2 separate regions of the Homo sapiens genome follow, and region 2 is linked to region 1. The links come from fine-mapping of genetic effects on gene expression. Tissue or cell type: whole blood. Region 1 holds a variant in brackets; the other region holds the start of a gene. All regions are shown on one strand. Distances are from middle to middle.

Region 1 (2,687 bases):
TTAGAGGCTTTTCTTGAATCTGAACTTGTGGGGAAAGCTGGACCCCAGAGCGTGTTTCCTCCAAAATCAAGGGCAGGTCATTCTTTGGATGCATTTATACCATTGATTAGGTTCTAGCTTTCTTTTAATCTTGTAGACGTTTATTTTATTTTATTTTTTATTTTTTTGAGACAGAGTCTAGCTCTGTTGCCCAGGCTGGAGTGCAGTGGCGTGATCTCGGCTCACTGCAATCTCTGCCTCCTGGGTTCAAATGATTCTCCTGCCTCAGCCTCCCAGGTAGCTGGGATTACAGGCACGTGGCACCACATCCGGCTAATTTTTGTATTTTTAGTGCAGATGGGGTTTCACAGTGTTGGTCAGGCTGGTCTTGAACTCCTGACCTTGTGATCCACCCGCCTCAGCCTCCCAAAGTGCTGGGATTACAAGCGTGAGCCACTGCGCCCGGCCTTAATTGTTGTAGAAGATCCAAACAATACTGAGCACGTAAAGTAAAATAGGGCAGTTTCTCTGTGCCATCACAATTCTATGGGTTTTCATTTTTTACAAAAATTGTTTTCTATTTGCTCAGGGTAAATAATTTTAGCTGCTGTTACAAATCCTAAGTCTCAGTGAATTAACACAATAGTATGCAGGGGTCGGGGCAGGACAGTCTGCTCCACTCAGGCACTCAGGGGCCTAGGGGCCTGCCATCTTCTGACACTGCCTCTTCCTACACATGGCCTTGATTTAGGGACAAGAAAAAAGCTAAGGGAGTTGAGAAGTCACACCTGCTCATAAAAGCCTCAGCCTGGAAGTGCCATCAATTTTGCTCACATTCCATTGGCAAAAACTAGCCACATGACCTCCCTTACCCTCCCCTCACCCCCTCTGGGTGCAGGGACCTGGGAAATGTAGTTTAGCTGTGTGCCCAGGAGGGATCAACAGGTGTGGTCATCATAGTCAGTCTTTGTCACATATACTACACGTGTTATTCTTTTTTTCTTTTTCTTGAGATGGAGTCTCACTCTGTTGTCCAGGCTGGAGTACAATGGCGAGATCTCGGCTCACTGCAACCTCTGCCTCCCAGGTTCAAGCAATTCTCCTGCCTCAGCCTCCTGAGTAGCTGGGACTACAGGCACATGCCATCATGCCTGGCCAATTTTTGTATTTTTGGTAGAGAGGGGGTTTCACCATGTTGGCCAGGCTGGTCTCAAACTCCTGACCTCAGGTTATCCGCCTGCTTTGGCCTCCCAAAGTGCTGGGATTACAGGTGCCCACCACCATGCCTGGTTAATTTTTGTATTTTTGGTAGGTGGGGGGCTCACCATATTGACAGGCTGGTCTCAAACTCCTGACCTCAAGTGATCCGCCCGCTTCGGTCTCCCAAAGTGCTGGGATTACAGGCGTGAGCCACCA[C/T]GCCCGGCCCAATTTTTTTTTTGTATTTTAAGTAGAGACAGGGTTTCACCATGTTGGCCAGGCTAGTCTTGAACTCCTGATCTCAGGTGATCCGCCCACCTCAGCCTCCCAGAGGGCTGGGATTACAGGTGCGAGCCACTGTGCCCAGCCCACATGTTATTCTTTTGTCATAAATTTGTTGTTCACTTTTTAATGATACAAGCAATACCTGAAAGCATGCTTGTTATACACGGCTAAATCAACAGAAACTTGTACTTCAATTAACAATATCATCTGGACATGATGACATGTTGGTTTAATGGATATACATATCAAGTGATATAGTTATTACATGCAAAGCACATGGTGGGAGCTTAATTATGTTGGCCAGTATTATCACTACTGTTATTCTTTTTACCAGCTATATGGCAGTCTACCAAATGGATAAACCATAATTTTTTTAGCTTTCTTTTTTTGGTCTCCTTAAAAAATATTGCAGTAGGCATTCTTAGACACATATTTTTTCATACTTGTGCTGCTACTTGGAAAGTTTCCTGGAAGTGGTCATATGTGAATTAAGAATTTTGTATATATTGTGAAATTTTCCTACAGAAAAGTTGTACCAATTTACAGTTCAATCAGTGATGAATGACAGTGCTCATTTTCTATATCCTTGCTAACGATTTTTATTATTAGTCATTTAAATTTTTAATAGACTAGAATGGTAAATATATATTTACCAGATAATTGTATTTATTTTTAAAAATTATCTGTTCATACTCTTTGACACTTCCTATCAGTTTTTGTCTTGTTCTTACTAATTTTTTGGAACTCTTCTTATATATCCTTTGCTATTTGTGTTGCAAATATTTTCTCCTAGACTGTGGTTGTTTTTTACCTTTATATACTTGTTTTCTGTCCTATACAATTCTACATTCATGTCATGCTTAGAAAACCCCTCCTAACCCCAAGGTCATTAACATAATATCCTATACATTTTCCAGTTACTTCTGTAGCAGTAACATTTGAATTTTATTTTAAATGTAATGTAAAATAAGTATCTAACTTAATCTTTATCCAAATGAATAACCAATTGTTCTAATAACATTTATTTAATGATCTGTATATATTTTAGTCCGTTTCTGTGCTCTTGTTTTTAACTGATCAGTTTGTCTAGTACTGCACTGTTTGTATTAGGATAGCTTTATAGTATATTTTAATATTTGATAAGGAAAGCCTCCTTCTTCCCTTTTCTTTTTCAAAAGTTTCTTAGAAATTTTTCCAAACTTACTCTTCCCAGTGAAATTTAGAAT
Region 2 (2,687 bases), 59 kb before region 1:
GGACTCCAGGATCCCCTGCCTTTGGACTTCAGGACTTACACCAGTCTCCCCACCCCCTGGATTCTCAGGCCTTTGGCTTTGGACTGAGAGTTATACCATCTTCTCTGGTTCTGAGGCCTTTGGACTTGAACTGAGCTCTCAGCAGTCTGTCATGCGACTTCTCAGTCTCCATAATCACGTGAGCCAATTCCCCTAATAATTTCCCTCTGCTATGCCTCTCTAGGTATCCTTTTGGTTCTGTCTCTCTGGAGTCCATCATCGACTGAAATATCATTATGCTGGGTATGACTGTAATTGTAATGGTTAATTTTAGATGTCAAGTTTGCTGGGCTAAGAAATACCTAGCAACCTGGTAAAGCATTACTGTTGGGCGTGAGAGAACGCTAACTGATACGCTCCTATAACTTCCCCAGGATATCATGGGATTTTAATAATGACAGTTATTACTACTTAACTGAGACATGCAGAGGTAATGAAAATACTTCAGGATCCACCGTTAGATGCACGGTCAGTAGATGTTGGGCTAATCTGAGACGTGCTATGGCAATTCGGTGTAGACCCACCCTGACTCATCCTCTGAGAAGATGCTGTTGATGGAGTTTTGGAAACCATTTCTTCTGTGCCCCCAAAGCATATTCGAAACAATAGACATTTTTTTTGGTGGGGGAAGACATGAAAGTTTGCCATGACGTTGTTTTCCCCTGGGTAGGGAGGAGGATGAAGATAGACGATCTGCAGTGCCGCCAGAAATGAGAATGTCAGGGATAAGTGGGGTTTCCATGGTTTACAAAGCACGGTTGTTGGATCATTGTGGGGTCTCAGACTCCTGGGAGGAGGAAGTGGGAGGATCATAGACTGTCTCCTGTCCATCCCCTCGCTGACGACTTGGGTTATTGAGCCACTAGGAGTACAAATGTGAAGCAGGAGGATTATAGACTGTCTCCTGTCCATCCCCTCATTGACGACTTGGGTTATTGATAGCATTAGGAGTACAAATGTAACAGCCACCACCGGAGGCTTCCTGCTCACGGATATGAGGTGGGAGATGCACCAAAATAAACACACAGCACTCACAGTGGACTCTGAGAGGACACTCCTCTTCCAGAACCCCCTCCCACACACCTATTCTAAGTAATTTCTAACCCTGTGATTACTCACAGAAAGAAGAAGAATAGAAGTTGCTGGCATTTGTAGTAACAGGATGAGAAAGTGCGAGACTTCCTGTTATGTGTGTGTGACAGCTGGTGATAAGTGGAGGGCCCTGCACAGGAAATCCGCTCAGCTCCTGCAATGGGGCCTGCCTGACACTTGGGCGCTCCTTCAGTCTCGATGTTGATGGCAGGACAAAGGGGCGCCTGGACCATGGGTGATGTGGTCGAGAAGAGTTTGGAAGGGCCCCTGGCACCTTCTACAGATGAGCCCTCCCAGAAAACAGGAGACTTGGTCGAGATCTTAAATGGGGAAAAGGTCAAATTTGACGACGCGGGACTCTCCTTAATTCTTCAGAATGGCCTGGAAACCCTGCGAATGGAAAACGCTCTGACAGATGTCATCTTGTGTGTGGACATTCAGGAATTCTCCTGCCACCGCGTGGTGCTTGCCGCAGCCAGCAACTATTTCAGGTCAGCATGCCTAGGACCAGAGTCAAATTGGGTGCAAGTTGCAAGGAAGAGGTGTGTTAGTGTGAGAGCCCAATCTTGAACAGTTGGCCATGATATTTATGGTTTACATATATATTAAGGCTTGTGTGTCTACTTAAAATATAAGAAAGGACACTATCACACTTTATTTTATTATTTATTTATTTATTTATTTTTGAGACGGAGTTTTGCTTTTGTTGCCCAGGCTGGAGTGCAATGGCGCAATCTCGGTTCACCGCAACCTCTGCCTCCTGGGTTCAAGCGATTCTCCTGCCTCAGCCTCCCGAGTAGCTGGGATTTGCAGGCATGCACCACAACACCCGGATAATTTTGTATTTTCAATAGAGATGGGGTTTCTCCATGTTGGTCAGGTTGGTCTTGAACTCCCGACCTCAGGTGATCCACCCGCCTCCGCCTCCCAAAGTGCTGGCATTACAGGTGTGAGACGCTGCGCCCGGCTTATCACACTTTAAATTTTAGGATTTAGGCCACATTAAAAGAGAGATTGGCATCATTTAAAAGCAATGCTTACATTCTATAGTAAACCTTTTGTGTATATTTCCTTGTTCCAAAGGATGGAAAATTACTGAAGTCATGGGGACTTTTTTCCCCCTTGGTCTGACTGGTGTTGGAAACATAATGTTGTCTTTGTTAATCAACAGACATAGAGAAAAAGGATGTGGCCCCTCTTCTGGAGTTGTCAAATGACTTGTTACAAATTAGGGGCTTCTTTATGTGTAGGCAGTGTGGGGAAAGGGAAAGCAGTTACAAAGATGCTTTAGATGGGAGAGGCCTCTAGTTACGATAAACTGGTGATCTCATAGTGGGAAGGCCTGAAGTCAGGAGACTTGGTTCCTTCTTGACAGTGAAACTTTAGGCAAGTCACAAAGTGCTCTGAATGTCTGTTTCATCATCTGTAAGGTGAGCACAATGATGATCACCTTTCAGGGCTGTCATAATTAAACAAGAGCGTGAAAAGGGTCCTACACAGTGTCTAGCATATAGTAAGTAGATGCTCAATATATCTTTCTTGGAATTCTTTTTCTG

What was found. PIP is the estimated chance that this variant, and not a neighbour inherited with it, causes the effect.
Region 2: it holds the start of KLHL6, and the variant in region 1 is fine-mapped to the expression of KLHL6 in whole blood (TOPMed, PIP above 0.99).

What each region holds. Positions count from the first base shown.
Region 1 is chr3:183,495,714-183,498,400 of GRCh38, reverse strand. The region is part of intron 4 of KLHL6 (kelch like family member 6); the gene reads left to right. Among named protein-coding and RNA genes, the nearest start is that of SNORA63E, 43 kb to the right of the region's middle. The variant C/T (reference allele first, on the strand shown) is at 1,396.
Region 2 is chr3:183,554,296-183,556,982 of GRCh38, reverse strand. KLHL6 (kelch like family member 6) reads left to right here and starts at 1,277. Exons shown (of 7, transcript NM_130446.4): 1 at 1,277-1,622. The coding sequence starts at 1,330.